Linked DNA regions of Homo sapiens: region 2 is linked to region 1. The links come from fine-mapping of genetic effects on gene expression. A gene starts in region 1. The other region holds a variant in brackets. All regions are shown on one strand. Distances are between the middles of the regions.

Region 1 (5,384 bases):
ACCTACAACAGTGCATGGTGTACAGTAATCATGCCATATATATTATATTTGTCAAATGAGTTAATAAATTAATTTAGAAATTGAACAGGCCAGGCACGGTGGCTCACGCCTGTAATCCCAGCACTTTGGGAGGCCGAGGCGGGCGGATCACGAGGTCAGGAGATCAAGACCATCCTGGCTAACACGGTGAAACCCCATCTCTACTAAAAATACAAAAGATTAGCCAGGTGTGGTGGCGGGCACCTGTAGTCCCAGCTACTTGGGAGGCTGAGGCAGGAGAATGGTGTGAACCCAGGAGGTGGAGTTTGCAGTGAGCTGAGATTGTGCCACTGCACTCCAGCCTGGGCGACAGGGCAAGACCCCGTCTCCAAAAAAAAAAAACAAAAAAAAAAAACAAAAGAAATTGAACAAATACTGTAAACCTTGGTCATGAGATCCTGACCCTTTGACTTCTCCATCAGAGCACAGAGAAGTCATTAGCTTTCAGGCTTTAGGAAATGCACTGCCAGTTCCTCTGCTCACTAAATTCAGTTCCCGTTCTGTGGGCCCTCTCTACCCCCGGTAGACAGGCAAACCTTGTGTCTGTCCCAAGTGTGGTTGGGACCCTGGGAATAGCTGGTGAGCAGCCAAGATCTGCGCTGTGCTCAGAGTGGACCACCAGTAACTGACACATCCCAGCCCTGCCAGAGTCACAGAGGGCAGCTAGAGAATTGCTCTCAGATCAAGGTTTTTGAACTGCCCAGGATTTTCAAGGTAGAAGAAATCAAAAAGTTTCTTTTCTCTCATCTAAAGAATCTATTAGGGTTAGAATTGCCAGATTAAGCCAAAAAAAAAAAAATTACAAGACACCCAGTTCAATTTGAATTACAAAGAAATAATTTTTTTTAGTAAAGTATATCTCAGCTGTTTCATGGTACATATTTATACTTTAAAAAGTCATTTTTTTTCTGGAATTCAAATTGAACTGGCATCCTTCATTTTTATCTGGCAGCCCTAATAAGATCCAATTGAGTTGGATCCAGAGTTCTATAATGTAAGGGCCTAAAGTGACCCTCATTTGTCAAATTGTCCTTTGATGGTAACACGGTAGAGAGTACACTCTTTAGAATCAAACTGATATAGTTTTAAGTTCCTACTCCACAGAACTGGCTACGTGACTTAGGATAAATTTCATAATCCTCTGTGGGTCTTATTCCATCTATAAAATGAATCAAACAAGACCTTCCTTTTAGAGTTATGGGGAAATTTTAGGAAGACAATATAAGTAGAGTGGTACAAAGTGTTCAAAAAGGGCAAATATATGCTAGACCTTCTGAGAGAAAAGAAAGCCATGCAAACAAATCTGTGGTTATGACACTTGTTCACCTGGACTCTGCACCTCCTTCCTCTGGGCCAACTGCTGAAGGGCCCTTGCCATACACCAGAGGGGCAATTATCATCTGCCCTCGCTGGGTAATTCTCTGCTTCCTTCAAACACCCCGACTGTTAACTTATTTCTGGTCTTAAAATTCTGTCTTAAGAAGCTTTCCTTGAATTCCTTTGACACCCCAACAGCAACCCCGAAGAATTTAAAAATCACACGTGACATCCATATTCCCCAATGATACATCCCCTTTTTTCTTGCAAGTTTCTTTTGCATTTTTACATAATTTTGAAGTTACACCTCTAGGCTTAGAAAGTGTTCATGTCTGAGTATGATGCATTATATGAAAGAAGCCTCCTCAGAAAGAGTTACATAACAGTTGCCAGGTTAATCCCTTGATCCTAATGGTGCTCAGGATTTGCACTAGGTAACCGGAACAGTCGACTAATCCCTATGCAGTTTCTGTCATAGATTTACCCTCCAATTCTCTCTGCAAAACCTTTAGGAAGGGTAGAACACCTCTGACCTTTTCCTGCATTGGAAGCCAGTCCTGTTGTCCATAAACATCACCAAAGGCTAACCTCATGCTGACCACACCTTTCTAGAAATTCTAAGGGCATCTGGAGCTGAGTAACCTTAAATGTATTATCAGACTTGATTTTAGCTGAAAGAAGTTTCATATTTTTTCCTCCAAAAGCATTAGGCAATTTATTCTTTTGTGAGCCAGAACATTTTCCTGTATTTAAAGCAATGTTAGCCCTTCCCCTTTTGAAGATTACAAACTGTTTTTCTGCAGAAATAAGTGGATGCAGCAAAGTAATATTTCAAGGCATACTTTTTTAGGGGACTGGGATTAGGGTCAACTTAACAAAGTTAAAGATTTGTATAAAGCAAAAAATCATCTTCTGTTTCTTTATACAGCAAAGCCCAGCTCTATATAGTGACAGAGGATGATCCTCTGAAAAGCAGTTTTAGGAGGTTCCTGAGACAGCTCTCTGATGCTGCTGTTATCACCTTACACTTCCAGTTCTCTTTTTCTCAGCAAAGCTATAGACAGGTAGACCAGTCCATTGTTGGTGGACAAAGAAAGAGGCAGGAAGGAGCTGGGAAGGGAAGTACTGCTGGGGTTGAGCCCATAAATATCACCCAGGGTCCTGCTGAGGCAGAGAAAATCAATAATTTGAAAAGCAAAGCAAGACCCAAACCAAAGCCATAAAAAAAAAATTACCAAAATTCCAGCCAGCACCCTGCTTCAGAATGGAACAAACACTTGACCTCAAAGGGAGAAGGCTCAGCCACCTGCCCTGCCCTGTGGTCATTCTCATGCTCTCAGCTCCCCTTCTCCTTTTCCTCACACTCACACCATCCTGGGCCAAGTTTGCAGGCACATCCTGGGAGTAAAGAACTGTTTTCTCTGTGGTTATTTAGTGCCACAGATTCCTCCTTCTTCAGAAAACTGTTTACTATGAAGCTGCAAACAGGGAGGTCACTATTGGGCTCCTTCTAAATGAATTCAGTAATCAAGTTTTGCAGTGACCTTGTAATAATCAAGTTTCACTTATTTGCTTGTCCCATGGCATAACAAGAAGGTCTGCATGTATCTCCTTCATGTTCTTTCCCATTTTCATCCCCAGCCACAGCCCAGGCCCACAGGTCCAACATGTTTTCTTCTGCAATTTTTCTTTTGGAACCTGATCAACCCCCCAAAGCCCTTCAATTATCCTGCTCAAATTCACCAGAAGTTCAGAAGTACTCACGGAGCTGAATGTTGTTCCTATCAGCTGCCCAGCTGCCTTCTTTGCAAAAGACAAAAGGATCTTTGCATCCTGACTTATCTCTCTGTAATACCCTCATGCTGCCTAATCTCACCGTCATAAGCTCAGAACAGCAACCCAGGTGCAAAGAAGTTAGGAGAACATGGGTTGATGCTGGGACAGGCTTAGGAGTTTTCCAATAATTAGAGGCCCTTTCAAAACTGACTTGGGTTCATTCCAGTCAATAAATAGGTATTGTATTCACAAAAACACAAAAAGTGTTGATATCCAAGGGTAAATTTCAGTTTGTGATTCAATATCTTCTGTCTTTTTTTTATTCTTACCTTTAGATTTCAATACCCCCATTTCTTCCCTTTCTCTGACAAACACACACCTATGTGCGCAATCACACACACACATATACACAGTGACATAATTCTTATGGGGCTCTAGATAACTGGAGAGAAGAGAGGGAGCCACAGTGCCTCCTGCTATACAGGGACATTGAACATGCGGGCAGTGACATTGGGAAACACACAGTATGTCTCCCTAACTGGTATTGTGCGAATTTCCTCAGAGAGATGGAACCTCAGAGTCAAAACTGATATCTGACACAGAAAGGGCCCAAATGACAGCTAGGAATTGTTAACTGAGGACACTTATTTGAGAATCGATTGCTGGATCTTCCGTACCTAAATGTTTCAGGGTGTAGGGTCTAGGGTACAATCCAATTTACTGAGACTCCTTGACTCAGTCTTCCTATTTTATTGATCCACTAGTATTAATTATTAATAGATTAATACTTTTTGTATTTTAAATAGATCTCAACCCATATGGTAGTTATCAGTAAGCTCTTTTGATAAATTTATCATAGAAAGATTAAGTGACCTATTCAAGACTGCAAATAAAATTAATAGTGGAGCCAGGAACAGGGCCCAAATCTGGAAGTACCTTGCATATTCAATTGTCTTTGTGCTGCACTACATCAAAGCAGACAGAGACCAAGATGTCTGTTTGCTGGTCACTTCCATGCCTTGCCAGTGAATTTCAATGTTCTTTCCCCAGTTGTTACCTATTAGAAAATTACACTCCATAACATTACAGAGAAAGAAGGTCAATTTATCCTTTCTAGACAGGGAGAGGTTCTTAACCTGCAGCCCTAAGCAGATTACATGAGCAACTAGACAGCTTGAGAGTCATTCATATGCTCTCCACTGGTCTTTACCAAAATTCCTCTGAGTTTTGAAAGCAATGATTACCTTGCAAAGCCAGGAAAGTGTTTGGTCTCTGGATGAGTCCCTCTGCTCCCTCCTCTGTATCTCCATTACCATTCACATCTTCCTTTACTATTACATACCAGGCACGTTAATGTTCAGATGCTTATCTGTCAAACTTTTACATATTCTCCATTTTCTTGATGAAAGAATACAAATTTTAAGGACAGTGGAAAGTGCCAAAAGCTGAGTGAATGTTCTAGAATGTTGTTACTCAAAGTGCAGCAGCAGCAACACCATCTGTGCACTTGTTAAAAATGCAGGATTTCAGCCCTGCTCCATACTTACCGAATCAGAATCTGCTTTTTAACAAGGTCCAAGGTGATGTGTTTGCATATTAATGTTTGAAAAGTACTGTTCTAGACCCATATGCAAGCTTGGGTTTACCACTTATCTGCTATATGTCACCTCTCTGAGTCTCAGTTTCCTCATATGTAAAATGAATGATTTAGAGTGTTGGGGTTCTCAATTTTTTTCCATCCCAGTACACTTGAGAAAGATAATCTTGCAATTCTCAGATTCTCAATTTTTGAATATGGGGGTGGTTGTGCCATAAGTCTTCTTCCTCCAAAGGAAATCCAGGAGAGAGAAGAGGGAGAGATTAGGAGTGTGGAGAAAGTCTAGGTGTATAGTTTGAAAAATTCTCCTAAAGCCACTCTAATATGGTTCTCAGGGGTTTAGAATTAGAAAATTCTTAAATTACTCTACAGTCTTAAAAATCTATGTTCCTTCTTGTTTTGGACCAAGTAAAGTAGACACATTTCCTCTCATGCCTCTTGCTAAGTACAGCTAAAAATCCTGGATACTATATATGACAGAAATATGGAATATTTCAAAATATTTGAGAGAAGAAAAACCAAAGACAGGCTTTAGATGCGAGGAACAATATGGCAGGAAGTTTCCTGAATTTTCTTTTTGTATATCCGGATGTTGATGCAGGAAAAGACAGTAACCCAAAAACACCAAGAGGAGTGAAAAAACAAAAAACCTCCC
Region 2 (5,384 bases), 39 kb before region 1:
GACTAGATTTTAAAATAATTAAGTTCTCAATTTCCAACTTAGTACAATTGCAATCTCCAACAGCATTTCAGAAATAGGAAACCTGAAGCATATCTCTGCACACTTTTATTTGTAGTTTAGTAAACAGAAAGTCTGCAAATGAGAAAGAATAATGCCTAACTTCTTAAATAAGCAGAAGATGGGAATAATCCAGTCATTGTGCTTATACCTGCACTTCTCAGTTCTGCCGCAAGTATTCCAGTAAAAACTGGGTTGATCTGAGCTGAAGTGTTTCTTCCTTTTGGCCAGGTGCAAAAGTCTGGAGTCTACTTCAGAGGACGAATGTGTTTAGTCATTTTTATAAGAGTTGAAAAAAATAAGCACTAAATCTTTCTTTCAAACTTGAACTGATCCTCAAAACAGTTTTAGGAATTTCCAAAGGATCTTTTTGCTTTAGTTTCCAAACTGGTATTTTCACTTGTTTCCATCTTGTTTGCTAGATAACCTGAGTCTTAAATTTAAAAGAAAAATGCTTTGAGGATGATTTTATCAGCTCTCCATATGGAATATGAGAAAAAAAATCCATAATTATTCTGTATCCAGTTTACCTAAAATATTTTTCTAAGTTTTTGGTAGGCAGGTATTCTCCTTTCCACCGTAGAACTCAAGCAGTACAGACTATACCATGGCCTATTGCTAAGATTTACTGAGATCTCCACTTTTGGAAACCCCACAAGTGTAAATTGAGATTAATAAAAATTCCTTGGTATGAAAAATGCTAACAGTTGAATTTCACTCTCCCATCTACTCAGATATTACTTTATACTCCTGGATACCCCTCATAACTGCTCCTGATGCCCAGGCATCCAGGGTTAGGTGAGGAAGCATGACCTGGGTTTTCAACAAACTGCATGAGGCCACTCTGGCCACGAGCAGACTCTCTATCCTCAGGCCCCCAGTAATTTTGAGTTACTTCCTCTCAGCCATCTGACTTATATGTGAGGCACAACTGCACAAAAATAGCAATTCTTGACGCTTTTATAAACACATCTACAGAGAATGTTCCCATTATTGCCTTAATATAGCAATCTGAGATAATCAGGTCTGGAAACATAGCCACGTTTTATAGGTAAGGAAACCAAGCATAAGTGATCTAAAAACTAACAGGAGAGTGAAATTGAAACCAGAACCTTGGTTTTCTGACTGCCCGTTATGGATTCCCCCTCTGGTTTTCTAGGAAAGCCCTATAGTGAAGGCCATATTGCTCTCAATATTTCTTCTTCTTTTCAGTTGCCTTTCTTTATGCCCCTCATCCCTGTCTGTCTTTTCCTCATCCAATCTCCTTGTGACTCTCTGAAAGTCCCTGCCCTGTGACAGTCAGTTCAGACCTACCCTTTCTAGCCATTTTCTGATGCTCTCTGAGCTGCAGATTTTCCTGAGCTTCAGACACCTCTCGTTCTCTCAATGCCTTGCTAGACTGCTGCAAGTTCAATTTATAAGGAGCTGATGGGAGATAATAGTTTACTGCAGTGGTTCTCAATCAGGGCAGTTTTTCTCCCTGGGGGACATTTGGCAGTGTCTGGAGACATTTTATGCTACTGGCACATATTGGGTGGAAGCCAGAGATGCTGGCTGCCATCCTGCAATGCACAGGACAGCCCCCCAAATACTAAGTAGAAATACTTCGTGCCTAATGTCGATAGTGCCTCCAATGTCAAGGTTGAGAAACCTTGGCTTAGAACAATAATCCATCCTACAATGTTTATTACCAGCATTTCCCGAAAGGAGTAACCAATGCCAAGACTTTCTATCATCATGGTGGTTGAAGAAGATAGTAGGTTTCAAACTGGCATGTACGAAAGTGTGGGGTGGGCCCATTAGTCAGGTCACAGAGACAATAGCCTACTTTGAGTGTGTTAACTGATCATTCTTGACACAGTAAAGTCACGTAAACTGCTTTGTGGCAATATAACTAAGACTTGCTGTGAGAGGAAGGCAGAAAAGAGAACGTGAGCACAGAGTTCTTCTCAGAATCACTGAAGGTTTGGTATGAGTATGCCCCACAATGGGACTCCTGCTTCGAGACGTGAGCTCGGAGCAAATGTGTCCCAAGCAATAACATAAGATCATTATGTGTGGAAAACAGACTTAAGAATAAAATACACTAAATATTTTTGATGTAGTATCCCATGGTGGGTAACACATGTCAGAGATGTGAGTGCAAATGTGAGACGCCTGATCTGCTCTATCTAGTTCAATTGGAGTCGTGGACCTTCTAATTCCATTCCTTCTGTCAAAAACATTTTTACATTCATTCTGGGATGTGTGTCATGTAAATTTTTAACCAGTAGAGCAAATTTTCATTTTATCTCAAGGACAAAGAACAATTTGCTCTCAGCTACAAACTTCCTTCCTTCCATCTGTAACATCATCAATTCTGTTCTTGGTTCCTCCTCTTCAATCATGTGGGACCCACTCAAAGAACAAAGAAGTCCTTTGACCCTTTGTCCTCCCAACCACTTCCATGTTCATGACATATATTTGTGATATTTTGAGTGAGTTATAATCACTTAATTCTAACATGTTTTTTGAAAGAACATTTTCCTTAGACTTCTTACTTTCCAACTCCAATTCTCTCAACCTAAAGAAATCCTTTCTGTCCCACTTAGCTGAATCCAAGCACCCCTCTTCATTTACTTTCTGGTCCCTTGTTTTTCACTGGACACTTTTCTACACTCCACTTGGGCACTTTCCAGCTGCTGAGGCACTATATTTTTATCTTTTCTCTCTTACTGCTTTTTTATGTTAACAAGAACATTACGTGTACTTACATCACTTCTTTTCCTTCCTTTTAGTACTGCAGGACCAGAACTATATGAAGTTCTGAGGACATAATAGCAGTTACAATCTTGTTCATCTACTGAGATAAATGGGCCTGAGCTCTCCTAGCATTTCTTCTTTCCATAATCAATTGTGATTTTTTCCATAATCAATTGTGGTAAAGCTCTCTCTTTCTGTCTCTCTGTCTCTCTGTCTCTCGCTCTCTCTCTCTCTCTCTCTCTGTGTGTGTGTGTGTGTGTGTGTGTGTGTGTGTGT[GTC/C]TGTGTGTGTCTGTGTTTATGACTATCAGAGGAAGAGAGACAGCTGGAAATTATTTTCAAGTATTTAAAGGTGATAGAAGTTCTTTTTCTTAGATAACATGCTATCCGGACCAGTAGTTATATATGAAACATATAACTAGTGTAGTATATAAAACATAAAACAATTTCCCCTTGGTCTTTCATTCAAAGTCCAAAACTTAAAGATCACGCTGAGAAAAGAGGGGTTCGGTGCTATATTAGCTGTAACTTAGTCTTGGGGTCTCTTCCAATGGTTGGCCTTGTTTTCCTTTGGCAAGGAAAAATTTATTGTTATGCTTGGAAAATATTTTGCTGTTAGCAGAAGAATAGTCGATATTTCAAAGAAAGATAAAGGGAGTAGAGAGAACTATGTGACAGGACATTTTTCTTGATTGTTTTCAAAATGGAAGGTTGAGGGAGGGGTATTCAAGAAAAATAAAGTACAATTTTGACCTCCACAAAGCAGAAGCTACATCTATTTTACCTTCCCACAGATCCCAGTAAAATATTCTAGACCTGGTGAGTGTGAAATAAGTATTGTGACCTGTTTTGTCCTGAAAGTCTAATTAACATAATCAAATAAGAACTTCATGTGAAAGTATGCAAGTTGCCTTTGTAATAAATTACTATTTAGAGATTAGATGAGTCTACCTAGTAGAAATGTACACAGTGGCTTTAAACCTTTCAGAGTACTGCCCCTAGTGAACATTTGTTAAAAAGACAGCATGGCCTGAGCACTCTAAAGCACAAGCCAATGTCAGGGCCAGAGCCTGTGGGCTAGGCTAGTGGTGATGGTGGTGTTCTTCATGTGTGGCCAAGAACAGGAGAGGCAAGAGATCTACCAAGGAGCCTATAACAGAAGACCAGAGACCTGAACTACAGAAACCAAAACTGGGTGTGGAATAACTATTTAGCAGAAGTTTCTCTGATGCTGTACTAGATTTTTGTGGACTTAGCCAGGCCCAGACCTAAGCTATGGCAAATTCCAATGATGACCCAGGTCCTCTAGTTTGGAAGCCAGGGACTAAGATAAGTGACTGAGAGGCACTGAGCAAGAAGCTGACCTAACATCTGGTGGTAAAAAACCAACCAACCAACCTGACGGTCAGATCCTACCCAGCTGGGTTGGATGGCTACTTAGAAATTTTCTACCTTCCACACATCATCTTATTCTTCTAAGTAGCAATTTCTCATTTCCTTTGAACTTTTATGATTATCCTGCCTACAAATCAAAATTGTTGTGGGAAAAGAGAGGGCCAGAGTGTGGGATCTGTGCCATGTGAGGGCAAAGCTAGGCCTGGTCCAGGAACTGGCAGGCTCAACACCACACTTTGCCACAGCTAGGATGAAGGTCTGCTGAATCACAGCTTACAGGGGATGAGGAGTCTGGGGGGTTTGCCACCTCAGTGAATACTGACATCTTGTTTCAGCATCCAAAGGTAGTCCACCATCCGCCACCTTGAATTCAGAGTATGGGATCAAATTTCTTCAAAAATATGTAAAGATAGAAATGTATTTTAGATGCCATCTCTTTTTGCAGCCCTCTTACTCTTTTTTTGCAGCTGTATTATTATCGTTATTAATGTAGATGTTTTTTGAATATCGACTGTGTCTTTCTTTAATCCTAAAAATAACCTTTGATGTAGATTTAATTACCCTGAAACTGCTGCTGAGAGAGCATGAGTAACAATCCTATGATTAGTAAACTAGTACATGGCAGCACTATTAGATGAGTCTACCTAGTAGACTCATTATTATTTAAGTATATATTGAACTTAGTTTTGTCTGACGCTATAGACCCAAGTCTTTTCCCGATGCTCAATTTGCTTTCTGTTCTTCTTTTTGGCAGTTTTTTTTTCAAGACATGCTTAATACTGTCTGCTCTTTAGGAAGATGATTAGTGAAGTTGATGAATTCACCTGACCAATGGTAATACTCCATCTTGTATCAAGTAAAATGGGCATCTGTCAGCATGGCTTTTTAGAGATAGAGTCAGACCTAAGGAAGTCACTGGACTTTTCCAATCAGCTATAAAGTAAGGCTAAAACTATGGCAAAATAGAAGATGTAGTAATTCTAGCCACATGGAACCATACAACTTCTCTTAAAATAAACCAACATTTGTTCAAATGATCAAGCTTTCCCTCCTGCCTTCTCTTATTAACACATTGTACTGGGCTGAAGAGTATCTCCCCAAATTCCTGTTCTCCAGGAACCTCTGAATGTGATCTTTTTTGGCAGCTGGGTCTTTGCAGAGGTAATTAGTTAAGATGAGGTTTTGCTGGATTAA

Which allele goes with the higher level. Alleles are on the strand shown, and positions count from the first base shown. SD is a standard deviation of normalised expression in the study named.
As copies of C replace GTC in region 2, the expression in whole blood of the gene that starts at base 3,165 in region 1 goes up (large effect, 0.92 SD a copy in TwinsUK).

The links. PIP is the estimated chance that this variant, and not a neighbour inherited with it, causes the effect.
Region 2: its variant is the best candidate, but not a certain one, in a credible set for the expression of PDE6H in whole blood (TwinsUK, PIP 0.83).

What each region holds. Positions count from the first base shown.
Region 1 is chr12:14,970,823-14,976,206 of GRCh38, reverse strand. PDE6H (phosphodiesterase 6H) reads right to left here and starts at 3,165. Exons shown (of 4, transcript NM_006205.3): 1 at 3,121-3,165.
Region 2 is chr12:15,009,768-15,015,151 of GRCh38, reverse strand. No RefSeq gene overlaps it. Among named protein-coding and RNA genes, the nearest start is that of LINC01489, 11 kb to the right of the region's middle. The variant GTC/C (reference allele first, on the strand shown) is at 3,076.